Linked DNA regions of Homo sapiens: regions 2, 3 and 4 are each linked to region 1. Evidence: fine-mapped expression QTL. Tissue or cell type: whole blood. Region 1 holds a variant in brackets; each other region holds the start of a gene. Each region is shown on its reference strand, or each on the opposite one. Region 1 overlaps IKZF1 (IKAROS family zinc finger 1). Region 2 holds the start of BCL2L1 (BCL2 like 1). Region 3 holds the start of LYL1 (LYL1 basic helix-loop-helix family member). Region 4 holds the start of SHARPIN (SHANK associated RH domain interactor).

What was found. PIP is the estimated chance that this variant, and not a neighbour inherited with it, causes the effect.
Region 2: it holds the start of BCL2L1, and the variant in region 1 is the best candidate, but not a certain one, in a credible set for the expression of BCL2L1 in whole blood (TOPMed, PIP 0.81).
Region 3: LYL1 starts here. The variant in region 1 is the best candidate, but not a certain one, in a credible set for the expression of LYL1 in whole blood (TOPMed, PIP 0.88).
Region 4: SHARPIN starts here. The variant in region 1 is fine-mapped to the expression of SHARPIN in whole blood (TOPMed, PIP 0.92).

Annotation. Positions count from the first base shown.
Region 1 is chr7:50,358,100-50,362,099 of GRCh38, forward strand. The region is part of intron 3 of IKZF1 (IKAROS family zinc finger 1); the gene reads left to right. Among named protein-coding and RNA genes, the nearest start is that of IKZF1, 55 kb to the left of the region's middle. RefSeq lists enhancers at 2,152-2,671, 2,672-3,189. The variant G/A (reference allele first, on the strand shown) is at 2,185.
Region 2 is chr20:31,720,722-31,725,815 of GRCh38, forward strand. BCL2L1 (BCL2 like 1) reads right to left here and starts at 2,147. Exons shown (of 3, transcript NM_138578.3): 1 at 1,897-2,147; 2 at 934-1,627. The coding sequence starts at 1,497. RefSeq lists enhancers at 5-124, 1,766-2,521, 2,456-2,515, 2,522-3,276, 3,046-3,245 and silencers at 1,886-2,005, 2,056-2,165, 2,065-2,359, 2,566-3,015.
Region 3 is chr19:13,100,109-13,105,202 of GRCh38, forward strand. LYL1 (LYL1 basic helix-loop-helix family member) reads right to left here and starts at 2,750. Exons shown (of 4, transcript NM_005583.5): 1 at 2,423-2,750; 2 at 729-1,087; 3 at 549-640. The coding sequence starts at 1,063. It overlaps LOC105372282 (a long non-coding RNA gene), which reads left to right and starts at 4,308. Exons shown (of 2, transcript XR_001753871.2): 1 at 4,308-4,536; 2 at 4,700-4,798. TRMT1 (tRNA methyltransferase 1) reads right to left here. Exons shown (of 17, transcript NM_001136035.4): 17 at 4,799-4,973. The coding sequence ends at 4,827. RefSeq lists enhancers at 1-130, 190-249, 4,213-4,292, 4,227-4,521, 4,433-4,492, cis regulatory regions at 2,503-3,423, 4,223-4,803 and a silencer at 2,523-3,132.
Region 4 is chr8:144,101,965-144,105,964 of GRCh38, forward strand. It overlaps SHARPIN (SHANK associated RH domain interactor), which reads right to left and starts at 1,809. Exons shown (of 9, transcript NM_030974.4): 1 at 1,589-1,809; 2 at 1,087-1,261. The coding sequence starts at 1,789. It overlaps MAF1 (MAF1 negative regulator of RNA polymerase III), which reads left to right and starts at 2,497. Exons shown (of 8, transcript NM_032272.5): 1 at 2,497-2,894; 2 at 3,676-3,802; 3 at 3,905-4,000. The coding sequence starts at 3,720. RefSeq lists silencers at 1,551-1,650, 1,661-1,940, 2,701-2,940 and enhancers at 2,001-2,050, 2,802-3,096.

The DNA.
Region 1 (4,000 bases):
AGTTGTTCGATTTGTAAATGGGAAGAGTGTGTGACCCAAATTAGTCGTTTCCAGATATTTCCTGGTAAATGGTTGTTGAATCATAAAACTAGAAAGATGGGAAAGAAAGGGAGGAACCCCCCTTACTTCGAAGAAGTGTTGTTGATGTGAAGGACAGGACTTTTTGAGACACTCTCATCCTAAGAAACAGCTGATATCTACTAGGAAAAAACATGACATTTGAAGTTTCTTCCTAAGAGATGTGAGGTTTTGACAGAAGTGCCAGGAAGCCAGAGGTGTGTGAGTAGTGGGCCAATCTCGCGTGAAGGCTGTGGGACGGGGCAGGAGAGGGGCAGCCAGCATTTCCTGAGCGCCAGCTAATGGCGGGGACCTGGCACCTTTGCTCTGTGACTCTCCAGCTGTATGGTGACATGAGGCTGGCGTTTTCTTTGGTTTCATACGTGAGGAAGCTGAGGCTTGGTGATGTCCTGTGCATGGCTCGGACTCCAGAGCTACTCAGAGGCAGAGGCCGTCTGTAAACACCTTCAGGTGGTTGGAGGCAGGGTGCTGCAGCCAATGCTGATCACTCACAAGCCAAGGCTTTATTGTAAGGGCTAAATAAAATAACATATGCCTAGCATTTATACAGCACGGGGCTTTTTAGGAAATAGTGAGACGACCATGGAGAGGTGGAGGAAGAGAGAAGGGAAAGAAGAAAAAGAAAAAAAAAGCCTTAAAGAGTTTCTTAAGAGAACTATATATTACAAAGTCCTTGGAGTTTTTTTTCCCTGGTTAGACATAAGTTTACATGAAACGTTAAACGGCTTAAAGTAGCCACATCTCCTTCCTTATGTCTTCTCACAGCCACTTGTGAGTTTCTTATCAAGATACAGAATTATGGCCAAGTGCGGTAGCTCACACGTGTAATCCCAGCACTTTGAGAGACTGAGGTGGAAGGATCATGTGTGCTCAGGAGTTTCAGACCAACCTAGGCAATATGGTAAAACCCTGTCTCTACAAAAAAATACAAAAATTAGCTGGGCATGGTGGCATATTCCAATAGTTCCAGGCACTCGGGAGGCTGAGACAGGAGGATTGCTTGAGCCCAAGAGGTCAAGACTGCAGTGAGCTGTGATCGAGCCACTGCACTACAGCCTGGGCCACAGAGCAAGATCCTGTCTCAAAAAATAAAATAAAATAAAATAAATTCTGCAACAAGTCACAATTCCTTGCTCAGAAATCTCTACAGGTGTGCTTCTTTGTTAAGAAATGGAGGAAACATGAATTTCATCCTGACTTCTGAGTCTTGTAGAGACCAGATCTGACTCCTGCAGCCTTCTGCCCACAGAGCTGGCAGGCGGGGGAATGTGCGCAGAGTGAGGAGGAGCTGATCTGACATTCCGAACAGTGGAGACTGCTGCCTATTTGGCCGCACCACTGTCCTTCTGCATGGAAAAGTCACAGTAAATAATGGACTCTCTACCTGTGAGTCGATTTTACTGAGCTGCCTTTTTAAATATATGTGTAGAAAGGGCGATCTCTGTGTGTCATTTGCACATGTACATACACATGTACACACGTGCACACGTGGTCACTCATGTACACATGTGTGTGCACCAGTGCACCAGACCAGATGCACCCACCCAATTCCACGCTCCTCAGCCCCTTGCTTTCCTCTGCAGACAGCCAGTTCAGCTACAGTTATGCCAGATTGCCTGCACTCTGATCTTTACCATCACCAGACTCTCAGCTTGAGCTCATGCCTGAGAAATCCACTTTCTGGGAGGAAGGCAGAAGAAACTGCCAAGGCAGGACTGAAGACTTGACCTCCACCTGTAGTGGGGTCAGGTCACCAGAGGCTGGCTGACTCCCCAGGATTTCTCAGCAGAGTATTACACAAATACCCCTTCCTTAAAGATTAGCAACCACTTAAAGACACAAAGTGTGCAGGACTGTACCCATGGCCGAGAGCGGCGGGATTAAGAGGGCAACTGAGTTGTTCTTCCCATCCCTCCTCCTCTGTGCTGAGTCACCTTCTGCTTGGAATTCTGACAGGGACCCGTTGGGCTTCTGGAAGGGAGGGACAGCAGAGGATCCACCCTCTGTGTGTCCTGGGGGAGATTACTTATCTCTGGCCTCCCTGAAGCAGGGCCTGGGCTTCTGGAATCTTTGAGGCTGACACCCTGCCAGCCCTGGGGATGAGAG[G/A]GAATGGCCGTGTCTGTCTGCAGAGCCTGAGGAGGAGCTGAGCACAGCCTCCAGAGTTCTCTTCAGTTGATCGCTTAGGTGGACAAAGGCCACAGAAATGGATTTAAACTCCTCAGCCCTTTCTTTGCATGTTTGTTCTCATTTGAAGTCAGAAGTGATATGTCCTACACCTCAAGAACGTGTGAAATGCACATACAATAACCCCATTTCAGGAAGCCAAGTCCAGCTTAACAGTCAAAACATTTCCTTCAGTCTTTAGTCCTTCACTTTGCCGAACTCCCTTTTACACCGGCAGCAACAGTTTAACCTGTTGCTTCTGTAAGAGTGTGCTACTGGGAAAACCACATCTAAAACACGTGTGCAGTTACATCAGCTAGAGCACATGCTAAACAGTTGATCAAAGGCTCTTGCCTTGTGGCCCACGCTGCAGACACTCTGACGACTGCCGAGCTCCGCAGCCCCATGTCGTCCCTTCCGCACTGCCTGCTGTGCCTCTCCTCTCCATGTGGCAGGGAACACAGCCAGTCATCACCATGTGGCTCTGCCCGGCGCTGCCCCAGCATGTCCTGACAGGGCCTAGATATGGAAAGGTGGCTCTCCATGCACACACCCCAAGCCCCTCCTGCCCGCCGTGTGACCCACACTCTTATGGGCAGCCCAGTTATTTTGTAGCATTTCCCTTCCTTATCATTTTGGCCCAGTGATCCAGCACAAATCTCCCTTATTAGAATAAAATTTGGAATGACAAAATTAAATTTCATTTTTCACTTATATTGAGGACCTCACACTCTTCACCCCTGCCACGATCCCTGACAAGAGCCTTCCTATCTAATCATTGTTCCTCCAGCCCTCTTAGTTTTCTTCAGCCTTTCTTGATTGCCTGAATGTCCCTTTCCCTTCTCCTTTTAAAGCATGAACCAAGCTTTCTTACCCCGTTCTCATTATCATTTTTGCATTTTCTTCTTTGCATATGATTCTCCTTAAATTATAAAACTTGGGGGTAATTTCTAGAGGTGCCATCATAGTGCTTCTGTCTACTCAGTGTCTTTAGAATCAGCAAATATCATTTTTACAAAAAAGTAGTATTTCTTCCAAAAAAGAGTAAGCAAGAAGGTTACAACACTGGGAAAATATCCCTAAGCCTGTTCTTCAACCTGTTGAATGTTTTCCCCTAAATTGTTATATGGAGATCCTGGACCCGGAAGTTGGCTGACATGAAACAGGCCTAGCAGGGCAGCTGAGGAAATGCTCCAACCTCAGGATCCAGGAAGATTGCACATGGCACCAAAACAATCATTTAAAAGCTAATCCTGGCCAGGCACAGTGGCTCACGCCTGTAATCCCAGCACTTTGGGAGGCCGAGGTGGGCTGATCACAAGGTCAAGAGATCGAGACCATCCTGACCAACATGGTGAAACCCCATCTCTACCAAAAGTACAAATATTAGCTGGGCATGGTGGTGCGCGCCTGTAGTCCCAGCTACCCGGGAGGCTGAGGCAGGAGAATCACTTGAACCCGGGAGGAGGAGGTTGCAGTGAGCCAAGATCATGCCACTGCACTCCAGCCTGGTGACAGAGCAAGACTCCATCTCAAAAAAGAAAAAAAAAGCTAATCCCATAAAAGAACCATCATTTTGAACCTGCTGTTTCCTTTCTTGTACTCTTTAGAAGTACCCATTTCTCCCTTTCTAAGCCATAGGTGTATTAATTGGAGCTTTTTCTATCTTAATTAGTTCACTGTGAACAATTAAAATTGTGTTAATAAAACAAAAACAAAAATAGGACTGGTGCCTAGTTGTACTACATGAAGAGAGAAA
Region 2 (5,094 bases), not on the chromosome of region 1:
GCCTGTCCAAGGTCACACAGCTAGTTACATGACAGAACTGGAACTTATACCTGCATGTGAAGTCTGTTACTAAATCTCAATGTCCCACAGAGCCCCAAAGACTAGGTTCTTGCTTTGCCAGCAAACAGTGCTTGAAGAGGCCCCTGGGCTCTGGCCGGAAAGTAACAGGCAGAGCAGCTGGAGCTCCCCAACCGACCCCAGGCAATGAGGTGCAAAGTCCCCTGGCTTAATGTGTGACACAGCAAGTGCTCCACAAACAAGGCAACCATGCAGAAAGTCGCACACTTTGGGGGAAATGAACTTAGGGGGCGCAGTGCAAACACAATCTGCACAGCCTACACTGCCCCAAAATCTGACAATTCTCAGCCATTCAACCCAGTGGGAACTCCTGCCTATGGCCATGCCCTAGTCTGAGAGGAGAGTGCCATACACGCAAACTTTGAAATAAAGGGAACTTGATTTGGGGGAGAGAAGCCCAGGATAGGACTGAGACCCCTTGGGGGGAACAGATGGAGAGGTCTGTGGGTCATTGATGCTCATCATCTTCTCCAGGCATTATACTCATCACCCCTTTGTGTGTGAACCATTGTATAAGGTAAGGGAAACACCGAACTAACTTCCTACCCTCACAGGTTTGGGACTTAATGAACACATAGGCTACAGTTTTCTTTGCTGAGAAACTGGAACACAAGTATGGAATAGTGGAGTCATGGGGGTGACCAGGGTGAAAGATGCCTGATCTCTGAAGCACAGGGTCATTTGTATTTCCAAGGAGTTAACCTCTTGTGGTGAAATGAGGCCAGTCAGGTTTCCTCAACTATCAACGTCTCCAACAATCACCCAACACAACAGAAAGAGATACAGAAGAAGGGCTGTTGGGGATCTCTGACCAGAGGCCAAAGAAAAGGGACACACAAGGGGCTTGGTTCTTACCCAGCCGCCGTTCTCCTGGATCCAAGGCTCTAGGTGGTCATTCAGGTAAGTGGCCATCCAAGCTGCGATCCGACTCACCAATACCTGCATCTCCTTGTCTACGCTTTCCACGCACAGTGCCCCGCCGAAGGAGAAAAAGGCCACAATGCGACCCCAGTTTACCCCATCCCGGAAGAGTTCATTCACTACCTGTTCAAAGCTCTGATATGCTGTCCCTGGGGTGATGTGGAGCTGGGATGTCAGGTCACTGAATGCCCGCCGGTACCGCAGTTCAAACTCGTCGCCTGCCTCCCTCAGCGCTTGCTTTACTGCTGCCATGGGGATCACCTCCCGGGCATCCAAACTGCTGCTGTGGCCAGTGGCTCCATTCACCGCGGGGCTGTCTGCCAGGTGCCAGGATGGGTTGCCATTGATGGCACTGGGGGTCTCCATCTCCGATTCAGTCCCTTCTGGGGCCTCAGTCCTGTTCTCTTCCACATCACTAAACTGACTCCAGCTGTATCCTTTCTGGGAAAGCTTGTAGGAGAGAAAGTCAACCACCAGCTCCCGGTTGCTCTGAGACATTTTTATAATAGGGATGGGCTCAACCAGTCCATTGTCCAAAACACCTGCTCACTCACTGAGTCTCGTCTCTGGTTAGTGATTCTCTTCTAAGATCCAAAGCCAAGATAAGATTCTGAAGGGAGAGAAAGAGCTTCAGGAAAAAAAAATAATTAATATGCATGCCATTTACCCTAAAAATTCCATTCCCCCTCCAGGTACCAGAACTGGTTTCTTTGTGGGTCTTACGAAGGTCTGGGTCTAGGTTCCAAGATACTTCACTTAAGTCAAATCGAAAGCACCAGTGGACTCTGAATCTCCCACCAGCCTTTTCTACCCCCGTCTTCTCCGAAATGCCTTCCTCGGAAAGTCACTCCCTGGGCAGTCCCCCCCGCCCCACTCCCGCTCCCCCGCACCACCTACATTCAAATCCGCCTTAGGCAAAGGCAGGCAGGTGCAGCCCCCGGAAGATCTTTTGTATCACAGGTCGGGAGAGGAGGTGGCTGCGGGGATGCCGGTAACTCAGCCGGCCTCGCGGTGGCTGGCAAAAAAACCAGCTCCGGCCGGAGGGATCATGCGACCCGGCAGGCTGGGAGCCCAGAAGGCGACACAGGAATTGCGAAGCTCAGGAACCAGCCCCCTCGCTTGCTTCCTCCTCCATCGCCCGGATCGAGGGCGGCCGCTCCGCAGCCGCGGCCTCCTGCCACCCGGGAGCCCAGCCCCCTCTCTCTTGCACGCCCCTTGGCTCTCCGCCTCCTACTGGGAGCCAGGAGTACTCTCCCGGAGGTGGCTGGTATGGATTTAGTTGGTTTTTGTTTTTCTTTTTTCTATTTAAGCACCAGCCCAGGGTGAGGTGGAGGCGTCCGAAACCCTAAAGGGACTTCTCAATGGGGTTCAAGGTTTCAGTGAGGGACGCAGGGAGGGGGAAACTGCCTCAGATCTGCAATCTGACTTTGGGAAGGCCACCCCCAGGCCTGTCTGTGATGTTGAAGGCCGGAGACCCCCAACAAATGCCGCTGGTTTGCTCTGAATTCCCCAAAGGCCCAGAACGTGGCAGTTGGGGATTGCCGGGTCCTCCATTCCCCGCCCGGACACAATGGCCGCCGGCGCCCTGCACAAAGACTGGGTGAGGGTGAGGCGCTGGGCCTCTCCTCAGGTCAGGAAGAGGGGTCGAGGCCTGCTCGACGGCCCCACAGCTGAGACCACGTTTTCCTGGGGACAGGCCCAAAGTGGCTTTCTGGCGCCCCCGGGAGGGCTCCGGGGCCGGGGGCTGCACCTCTCCGGAGCCCAGGGTGGGCCGGCTGCGGCCTAGCGGCTTCTCGAGCTCACTAGGCCGGGTACCCGCCGAGCCACCGCCCCGTTGCTAGGCAACCGCCCTCCCCCGGGGGCGCCCCCTAGACCTTCCTGAGAGGAGGGGCCTCGCCCCCGGCGGTCCGCCCCAGCGCAGCCAATCAGCGAGCCCAGCCGGCACGGAAGCGGGACGGCGAAGGCTCCTATTGGGCGCAACGGCTGTCACGCACAGGGGAGGCGGCGCTCTCACCTGCGAGCCCCGCGAGCCGTGGGGGGCCACATCCCCCTTCATCGGCCCGGTAGCTTCCAGACGCAAGAGCTCTTCGCGGCCGAGTTCCGCGCCGCGGACCCGGGCCGGCCTACCTGGCTGCCGGCCTACCTGGCTGACTGCTCGCGCCGTCTCTCCCGAACAAGCCGGCCTCAGTTTCCCCTGAAGAGACAGGGGAACTTGCAAGCTCAGTCACTTCCGGTGCCGCGGCAACGCGCGCGAGCCCGAGACGCAAAGGGAGTGCGCGCCTTGAGTGACTGGCATCAGGACCGGGGAGAGATCGCCCCCTCGCGGTAGATCTGGGGAATCGGGAGGCGCAAAAAATCAACATTTATAATCACATTTCCATTTATTCATTCAGTCAGTCAGTCAGTCACTCATCAGTCAATCAGCCTATTTCATCCGTCCGTCAGTTTATATATAGAAGAAGCATCGCCTTGTGGTTAAGCACTTTGTCTGGATTCTAACTCTGCTAGTTAGGCAAGTTTCTCAACTGCTCTGTGCTTCAATGTCCTCAATTGTAAAATGGGTAATAGTACCAACCTCTCTCGTTGAGCTATTGTGATGATTAAGAGAGTTATTAATTGTAAACTCCATAGGACAGGCCGGGCGCGGTGGCTCACGCCCGTAATCCCAGCACTTTGGGAGGCCGAGGCGGGCGGATCACCTGAGGTTAGGAGTTCAAGACCAGCGTGGCCAATGTGGTGAAACCCCGTCTCTACTAAAAATACAAAAAATTAGCTGGGCGTGGTGGCGCATGCCTGTAATCCCAGCTACTCGGGAGGCTGAGGCAGCAGACTCGCTTACAGGAGAATCGTTTACAGGCGTGAGCCACCGCGCCCCGCCAATTTCCTTACACCCTGAACCACACAGTGTGTTATCAAATGTTTTATCCTTGCCAATTAGATGGGTAAAAACCGAAGGCACTTTCATATTTCTTTTTTTATTATGAATGAAGTTGAGCAATTTGTCATATTTTTTAGTCTTTCTTTGGAGGGTGGTGGATCTTGTATTGGTGAATTTTCTTCATATTGTTTACCCCTTTTTCAGGTGGTCTTTCTGTTGAACTCTTTCCTCATTTTTTTTTTTTTTTTTGTTATTGTTGTTTGTTCGAGATGGAGTCTTGCTCTGTTGCACAGGCTGGAGTGCAGTGGTGCTATCTTGGCTCACTGTAAACTCTGCCCGCCAGGTTCAAGTGATTGTCCTGCCTCAGCCTCCCTAGTATCTGGGACTACAGGTACACACCACCACGCCCGGCTAATTTTTGTATTTTTAGTAGAGACAGGGTTTCACCATTTTGGCCAGGCTGGTCTCAAACTGCTGACCTCAGGTGATCCGACTGCCTCAGCCTCCCAAAGTGCTGGGATTACAGACATGAGCCACCGTGCCCGGCCTTTTTTTTTTTTTTTTTTTTGAGACAGGGTATGTCACCCAGCCTGCAGTGCAATGGTGTGATCTCAGCTCACAGCAGCCTCGACCTCCCCATCCCAGGTGATCCTCCCACCTCAGCCTCCCCAGTAGTTGTGAATACAGGCTCGCACCTCCACACCCAGCTAATTTTTGTATTTTTTGTAGAGAATGGAGTTTCCCCATGTTGCCCAGGCTGGTCTCAAACTCCTGGGCTCAAGTGATCTGTCTATGTCGGCCTCCCAAAGTCCTGGAATTACAGGCATTAGCCACCACACCTGGCTCTGATTTACATTTTTTTTGCTGTTTTTCGAGATGGAGTCTTGCTCTGTCACCCAAGCTGGAGTGCGGTGGTGCGATCTCGGCTCACTGCAGCCTTCGCCTCCTGGGTTCAAGTGATTCTCCTGCCTCAGCCTCCTGAGTAGCTGGGATTACAGGCACCTGCCACCACGCCCGGCTAATTTTTGTATTTTTAGTAGAGACGGGGTTTCACCAGTTGGTCAGGCTAGTCTCGAACTCCTGACCTCGTGATCCGCCCACCTTGGCCTCCCAAAGTGCTGGGATTACAGGTGTGAGCCAGCGCGCCCGGTCTGATTTACATTTTTGAACCTATGGTGCCACAATTATCTCAATGTGAAAACTATCATTATGGAAGC
Region 3 (5,094 bases), not on the chromosome of region 1:
ATTATGACTGTCTGTGTCCTGTGTCTTGTATGACTGTGTGAGACTCTTGTTATGTCTCATGGCTGTGGTTATGTGTGATGTTGCCATGTGGCTGTTTCACGAGTGGCTGTGGTTGTGTGGCTGACTCTTGTGTGGCCGTGGTCCTAAGTGGCTGTGGTCCTGTGGCTGTCTTGTGTGTGGTTGTGGTCCTGTGGCTGTCTCTTGCATGGCTGTGGTCTTGTGGCTGTCTTGCGTGGCTGCACATTCCAGTGGAGCTGTCATTTTGTGGCTCCCATGCCCTGGTGTGGCATGCTCTGTTTTGCCGTGACTGCGGCTACATGGCTTGGCCTGTTGGGTGGCGGTGGTTGTGTGGGGCTGGCTATGGGACTGCGATTTTGCACATGGGTAGAACCTATGTGGGCTGTTCTCTGTGTGTGCTGGAAGCACGTCTCCCCGAGGTGGAGTAGAGGACAGACATGAGCCCCACACAGAGACGGCCAGGCCTTCTGTGCACCCACAAGTGCACATACAGGCATACAAACCCACAAGGCACACAAACCCACACTCACCCTCAGCCAGGTCCAGCTCACAGTGGCTTGGTCTCCGCTTCAACCGGCTGCTAGGGAAGATGCTAAAAGGTCCTGCTGGCCCAATGTAGACACTGTAAGGGGTCGTGGGTCACTAATGCCTTGTGGGCAAGGACCCTGGCCCCCAATCCCCACTGCCCCCCACCCCAGATCCCCACTGACCTGTTGAGGAAGGGGTGAGGGTGGTAGTGCAGGGCCAAAGTGGGCGGGGCAGTTCCCAGGGTGGAGAGTTGCAGCAGCGGGGGCCGCAGAGTGCCCAGCTCTGTGGTGGGCATGGCTACCCCTGGGGGCCTGCTGTGGCCCAGGCTGATCACTGGTACACCAGGTGGCAGCCTGGGGGGCGAGGAGCCTCCTCGGTGGCCCACCTCCTCCACCTGCGGGGGCCCAGGCGAGGCAGGCTTAGGGGGTGGGGCAGGCGCTGGGCTGGGGGCACACACCATCTCTGCCTTCTCAGTCATGGTGGGGCCCACCTCTGCCTGTGCCTGAGGCGGGCACATGGACCCCGACGTGGGGGTACTCACCTGTGGGAAAGAAGGCAGCCAGTGGGGAGGAGGACTAGGTGCCCCGCTCCCACCTGCTTAGCTCAAGAAACCCCTCAAATGGGAAGGAGGGAGGGGGAGGGGGAAAGGAGGAGGAGAGAAGTTTCAGTAGGCAAAGGCAGATGGCGGGGGCAGGCCCAGAAACTTCCAGGACACGGGAGGGGGGTCCTACGTTAGAGTAGGAGGCGCCCCCCAGGTGCTAGGCAGCGCACTGTCCCTGAGCTCTTTGTGACCCAGGAGGGGCGCTGTTGCCCAGCCTCTGAGCAAATATTCCTTCTTCCAGAATTCCCTCACCTCTGCAGCCTGGAGAGGGAACAAGACAGGGAGCCCCTAACTGATCCTGGGATCCCCAGAAACCCCAAGATTAACCCTGTTATCCTCAGATCTAAAGATCCAACCCAGAGACTCCTCATTAACTCATTGATGCCATGTGAGCTTGGAATCCCTCCAAGATGGACTCTGACCCTTCACGGAAGGCCCCCAGCCCCCACCCAGGCTGACCCTCTGCACCTCAAGAATGACCCTGCGGTTCTTCCCATTGCTGTCCCTGAAAGTGCTCCATAATTGCTTGAGTGACCCCCACTCCCACTGCAAACATCCCCCATAGCAACCCTGTGACCCCACTACTGACACTATGACCTCAAATGCTGACCCTAGACCCCCAAACACTGACCCCACTGCCCAGTCCAGTCCAGTCATGCCCCAACCCTCCCTCTGGCTTGGAAGCCCCCATCCTCATCAGCATCCACGCTTTTTAAAATTTGTTTATTTTTTTAGAGACAGGGTCTCCCTCTGTTGTCCAGGCTGGAGTGCAGTGGTGCAATCATAGTGCACTGCAGCCTCAAATTCCTGGGCTCGAGCCATCCTCCTGTCTCAGCCTCCTGAGTAGCTGAGAGTACAGGCATGTGCCACCATGCCCGGCTAATTTAAAAAAAAAAATTTTTTTTGTAGAGGCAGGTTCTCACTCTGTTGTCCAGGGTGGTCTGGAACTCCTGGGCTCAAGTGATCCTCCTGCCTCAGCCTCCCAAAGTGCTGGGATTACAGGCATGCACCACAATGCCCCGCGATCATCCACAGTTTTGCATACTGTTTTGACATCCCTGTTTGCTCTTGGTTCCAGAGTCCAGGATGTCCCAGCAAGGTGTGAGACTGTTGGCCCCTCTGCCCTGTCTTCCTCAGCTAGGCCCTGGGGAAGCAGGCCTGGCCCCTCACTAGTGGGTCCCTGCTGGTGAATGAATGAATGAAGGAATGAACAAAGGAATGCAGGCTGGGTCCCAGGCCCGGGATCCTCCACCTTTAGGCCCGCTCCCCTCTTACCCCAGCACTGTTCTTGCAGCCTGGTGAGTGCCCTGGCTCTGTCCCGTCAGGGCTGGCAGTCTGGGCCAGGGTGTGGTTTCCAGCGTCAGGCCAGGCTCTGCTGTCTCGCGAGGGTCCGGCCTCAATGCTCCAGGCCCCGGCGTTGGGCCGCGCCTCCTCGTGGGCCTCGGAAGGCCAGGATAGCCGAGGTCTCCGCGTAGGTCCCCCCCAGGGAAAGTGAGCGGCTCCCGGGCCGGCCCGCCTTCTCCCCGCCCCCGGCGGCCCGGTTTCCTCCCTCTCACCCCTGGCGGCGCAGCGGCCGGAGGATGCTGGCCCAGTGCAGATAAGGGCCAGGCTGCCTGGCCGCGCCTGATAAGGAGCCTGGCTGACCCCGGAGGAAACCAGCGGGCGGGGACCTAGCAGCGCGGGCCTCCCGGCCCCGCCCCCAGCCGGCGCTGGCAGGACTCGGTCCGCCACCCCTCAGGGCTTCGCCTTCCGCTCCCCCAGCCACTGTAGGGACCCCGGGCCTCTGGGGACCCGGGCCCCAGGGCAGCCGGGGAGGGAGGTGCCTGGATGCACGCAGGGGGTAAACTGAGGCAGGGAAGCTGCCTCCTCTTATGTCCGAGTCTGCCCTTTGGCTTTGCACACTCCCTGCCCGAATGTCTGTGCTGATGGGGGTGAGGGAGAGCCCTTTCCGGCCCGTTGGGGCCGCGTGACCCTGGGCCCCCACCTCCTCTCCTCACCCAGCCTGGTTCCTCTTTTTACAGAGGCCCTTCCCTCCTCTCCACCACCCCTACCCGGGAGTGGGGCACCCAAAGGGGAACAGTTCTAACAGTCTGGCCTTGGGTGTCCAGCCTGGGCAGGTGTCCCAAGCCCTCAGCACAGTATCCACACATTTCCAAGCCCAGGAGGGTGAGAGGAAGAGCCATGGCTGTCAGGGGTGGGGTGGGGAAGTTGGATTTCCTAGGGTGCTGGGGCTGGTGTGACCTTCCAGTAGATGCCCAACAGGTCCCCACAACTATAGGCCTCTTGGCTACAGGATCACATAACTCCAACTTGGTGGTCCATGGCCCTCACCCCACAGCACCCGGCCCCTTCATGGGGGGCAGTTATCCTGGCTTGGTGGTAAACCTCAAGACCCTACTGGAGCCTCCCACAGGGAGAGGCTCTGGGCACAGCCAGGCAGCAGCAGCTACCAGACTGCCACCCACTTGTGATACTCATGCTTTGGCCCGTCTGTGTATCTGGGCAACTGCAAGAGCCCCCAGGCAGGCAGGCACCCAGCAGCAGGACTACCAACCCCCCCCCCCCCCCGCCCAGGAATGGGGTGGAGCCCAGGACCCCACGATCAACACCTCCATTGCTTTCCTCCAAAGAAGCAGGAACTAAAGTTTTATGCAGTAAAGGCCGGGCTTGGTGGCTCATGCCTGTCATCCCAGCACTTTGGGAGGCTGAGGCTGGCGGATTGCTTGGGCTCATGAGTTTGAGACCAGCCTGGGAAACATGGCAAAACCCCATCTCTACAAAAAATACAAAAATTAGCTGGTTGTGGTGGTGCGTGCCTGTAGTCCCTGCTACTCTGGAGGCTGAGGTGGGAGGATGGCGTGAGCCTGGGAGGTGGAGGCTGCAGTGAGCCAATATTGCGCCACTGCACTCCAGCCTGGGCCACACACCTAGACCTTGCCTCAAAAAAAAAAAAAAAAAAAAAAAAATTAAGCGCTAACTCTGATATCGCTACAAGGAGGGTCCTAAGATTAGCCTCATTACAGATGGGGATGAAGGGAGCAGGAGCCAGAGAGGGGATCCTGCCCCAGGACTCTTCGTTAACGTTACTAAACCCCACTCTGGAGGGCAGGGAGGGGTACAGCTCCCCCTCACTGGGTGTCTGGGCAGCAGCCTGCGAGGTCCCTCTTTGTGTGCACGCCCCCCTCGCCCCGGGCCTCAGGGCAGGAAGCACCTGGTCTGGAGCGGATGCACAGGGCGCCTGGTTCCGGTCCAGCTTCCGCCACTGTGGCCCCTGGAGAGCTGGGCCAAAGAAACCAGGCGGCGAGGAGGCAGCGGCGCGAAGACACGTGGGGGCTACCGGGCAGGAGCGCCCCACTATGCGCAAGCCCGTGGCCTGGAGAGCGCTGAAGGTGGGAGGGGGAAGAGGGGCAGAACCCCCGCGGGAGCGAGCGCACAGCTGCCGCCCCGTGGCCGCTTCGGGAATCGCTGGCTCCGGCTCTGGGGTGGCTCAGTGACCCTCGCTGCAGAGGGGCCGACCACTGTGCAGATGGTCAGCTCCTACCTCCCATACAGACTCAACACTCCAGCCAGGCAGGGGCGAACGATCCCCAGAGGAACAGATCCCAGTCATGCAGCTGTATGGACCAATACACAAACCACAGGCAATCGGGAGAAGGTGACGTGACATCTCTTTATTGGTTCAGTCTATGCCTGGCCCAGCGGCAGCCCCAGGTCCAGGGGGGGTCTGGTTGGAGGTCTCTGGACAGTCAGGGGCAGCATCAGCAGAAACCCTGGGTGTCGGGGGGCTGTGGGAGTAGCAGCACTGGTCCCCGCGTTGACAGGTGCCCTGGTGGGAAGATGGTGGGTGTGAACCCCTGCCCGGAGCTCAGCAGCCCCTGATGGGATCCTTTCCTGGGATGGGAAGCCCACTCCCAAACACTTGCCTGGCCCCAGCTCCCCCAATTCTC
Region 4 (4,000 bases), not on the chromosome of region 1:
CTACCCCTCTGGCAGCTCTGCTTATCTCGTTTGTGGGCTGCCCTCTATCTGGGAGCCCCATACTACCTAGTCCTTCATGTTTCTCAGTCTCAACTGCTAACTCTTCCATTTAAGCAGCCATGTGAGCCAGGGGCAGTGGCTCATGCCAATAACAGCTACTTAGGCTGAAGCAGGAGGATCACCGTAGACCAGGAGTTCAAGGCTCCAGTGAGTTAGGGTCACGCTACTGCACTCCAGTCTGGGTGAGAGAGGGAGTCTTTGTCTGCAAAAAACCTCCCAAGCAGCCATGAAACTCAGCTAATTCCATCTTCTTTTTTTTTTTTTTTTGAGATGGAGTCTTGCTCTGTCACCCAGGCTGGAGTGCAGTGGCAAGATCTCAGCTCACTGCAACCTCTGCCTCCGGGTTCAAGTGATTCTCCTGCCTCAGCCTCCCCAAGTAGCTGGGACTACAGGCACACGCCACCACGCCTGGCTAATTTTTGTATTTTTAGTAGAGACAGGGTTTCACCTTGCTGACCAGGCTGGTCTCAAACTCCTGACATCAGGTGATCACCCACCTCGGCCTCCCAAAGTGCTGGAATTACAGGCGTGAGCCACCCCACCCGGCCACTAATTCCATCTTCTAAGCATCTCTAGAAACATCCTTCTCCCCAACCCTATCTGCACCAACCCTTGCCACTGCAGAACTCTGTCTTAAGCAGGAGGTATCTGAGTCTGTCACTCTCCCACTCCTGTCACTCTCCTGCTGCTCTTGGGATGATGTCTTCTCACACAGGTCCTGACCCTGCCTGCTCTGCCTCTTCATGCTTGCCTCTCATCCTTCCTGAGGGTTAAGGAAGTGCAGGCTGAGGTTCCAGGGCTTCCTGGTGGAGGCTGCAACTTGTGCTGGCTGGGGCCTCAGATGGTGTAGGAGACTGACTCCAGCAGCCACTCCAAGTACTCCAAGCTACTCCAGGCTCCACCTACTCCCTCCTGGAAGCCTTCCCAGACATCCAGCAGTGGGGAAGGTGGATCCAACTTCCCCAACCAGGACTGGGGGGCCAAGGCTATTCCAAATTGTAATTGTATCCATTACAGGGCACTGACCATTCTGTCCTTCCACGGTGGCACCTCGGACTAGGACTGCCCACCGCTGAGCTTCCTGAGGGTTGAGGAAGTGCAGGCTGAGGGTTCCAGGCCCTCCTGGTGGAGGCTGTAGCTCGTGCTGGGTGGGGCCTCGGATGGTGTAGGAAACTGACTCCAGGGGCCACTCCAAATTAACCTGAGAAGAGGGAGAGTCCAGGCTCAGGGCGTCCCCCCGCCCTACATCGCACGAGGAGCAAAGAAATACAAGGTAACATTTATAGACCATTTACACGGTCCTAAGCCCTGTACGCCTATCATCAAATCCTCACAATAGCCCTGTAAAGTAGGTCCAGGTAGGTCCCAGTAGGTCCGAGCGTCACCCCCATTTCACGGACGAGAAAACAGAAGCAAAGAAACATAACTGCTTAAGGGCACCCAGGTGGCAAGCGGAGGGGCCTAACTTTGGGCTCCGTGCCCTGCCCGGGCCAAGAGGACTGACCGCGCGCCCTCCGCCCCCACTCACCGCCCCAGGTCCCGCGCCCAGCAGCTCCAGCCGGAAGCGCCCAGGCCGCTCAGGGTCCGCGCTCAGCTGCAGCCTCCGCAGCTGTGCCTCGGCGTCTGGCCCGGCGCCCAGCGGCCTCACCGCGGCGTGCACAGCCAAGAGCACTGCGGCGGAGCCCAAGTCCGAGGCCGCCGCCGCCGCCCCGCCCGCTGGCGGCGCCATCTCCGGTCCGGCCGGGTCCCACCCCTCCGAGCGCGCTTCCGTGGGATCGGGCCGCTGAGCCCCCTCCGCCGGTCGGAAACACGGGCCGCGAACCTGGGGTTCCGGGCGCGCCCAGAGCGTCGGGCCTGGGACGGCGCCGAGTGGTGCACTCTGGCCAAGCCTGCCCCGCTGGCTTTGCCCACAAATGGACACGGCCCGAGGGTCTCCGGACACCGGCTGGGCGAGGCTGGCGGCGTGTACGAGGCTGGGGCAGGGCGGCCGAGGCGCTCACGTTAGAGCTGGTCTTTGGGGGCGAAGGGTCAGGGGGCGAAGCACCGGCCACAACTGAAGGCGGACGCGGCCTCTTCGCCCCAGGGGCTCGGCGGACGTAGATGCATCCAGCGTGCGACTATCCCAGCGCCTAACGGCAGCTGGACTTCGCTCCCGGGACCTCCAATGGGCTGCCACCTTCGCCCGCAGACCCCAGCCCCCGCCACGCCCACACGTCGCACTAGGTTGGCCCGCGCCTCACTGGTTACGGGGTCGACCCCCCTAGGGGGCGGAGCTAGAGAGGCCACGGCCAATGAACGCCGGGGGTAAGCGGGTTAGTACGACGAGAAGAGTGACAGACAGGCTCCATAACCAGTAGACGTAGAAGGCAGAACTGAGTGGCGGGTACGGCACCCGATGGCTATTCGAGCTCTCGATCTCGGAGACTGGAGCGGGCCATTCAGAGGCGCGGGGCCGGGCCCGGCGGACGCTTGTTGTTGTCCGGCCGGGGGAGGCGGAGGTCGCTCGCTCGCTCGCTCGGCTCGCTGACTCGCCGGAGCGCTCTGTGGCGGTCGGCGGCAGGTCGGTCGCGAGAGCGGGCTCTGTGGAAGGGGGCGAGGCTATGTCGCGGTGGCAGCCCGGATGGGCCGGCAGGGCCGGGAGTAACGGGACGTCGCCGCGGAGCTTCTTCCCCCGGATACAGTGCGGCCCGAGCGGAGGCCGCGGCGCCGCCCTCCGATCTTGAAGAGCCCGCGCTGCGCGGAGCCCGCCCCCGCCTGCGCACCGGCACCGACGCGGAGCGACCCAGCCCAGCCAGACCCGGCCCGGCGCGGCCTGATCTAACCCAGCCAGGCAGGTGGGTGTCCGCCCTGCGTCCCGCGCCGTCTGCGTACCCGGAACCACAGCCCCCAGCAGGCCTCGCGCGGCGCGCTGCCTCCTGGGATTTGTAGTTCCACCGCGGCTTGGCTGGTGCCCGACGTGGCCCAGGCGGGCGCTGCCTGGTGACTGCAGCGCCCCAGCGGGGCCGAGGGACCGCCCTCCTAGGCGTCTGGAGAAACTAGGCAATTTTTCCGGGTAGAGTGGAGGAACCTGTAGTTTTCCTCTCCCCGGGCCAGAAAGTAGCCAAAACGAAAGAGCGCCCGCCCAGGTGACCGCAGGGCCCGGAGTCCCAGGTGTCCTGGTTCCTAACCGGGATGCAGCCTCTTACCTTGGCTGAGGAGCCCAGCCAGCCTGAGGGAGACTGCAGGAGTCACGTCCCGTTGCGGACTCAAGAGTTACCCCCATGGTGGCTGGAGCTCTTTTGGAGTGGGCGTGGAGATGGGGAATGGGAATGTTGAGCAACAATCTCAGCCAGCAGCCCCAGGGTGAGCAGGGTCCCCGGTGGTCTAGTCTAGTCCCAGAACTCGCGTGTTCTGCAGGGGGTATGGCTGACCTGGAGCCTGGACTTACCACCCTCAGGTAAAACAGGATCTCTGTCACCTCTCCTGGCCGGGCAGAGAGGGGAGCTCCTGATGTGCAGCCTGGACAGAGGCCAGACTCAGCTTGTTCCTAGCGGCTCCACTTAGTGGGTAGGAGGGCTGAAGGCAGGGCCCCAAGGGGCCAGATAGATACCCATGGTCTGGTCTCTCACTCCCCAGGCAATACTAGCCCCTCTGGAGCACGGAGCTCCTTCCCCAAAGACATGAAGCTATTGGAGAACTCGAGCTTTGAAGCCATCAACTCACAGCTGACTGTGGAGACTGGAGATGCCCACATCATTGGCAGGTGAGGCAGGCTGGGGGGGCTGGCATCTCGGAGGTCACACTGCCGCGCCCTTCAGTGGAACCTGGGGGAAGCATGCTTCATGGTTCTCTCTGCATCCTATAGGATTGAGAGCTACTCATGTAAGATGGCAGGAGACGACAAACACATGTTCAAGCAGTTCTGCCAGGAGGGCCAGCCCCACGTGCTGGAGGCACTTTC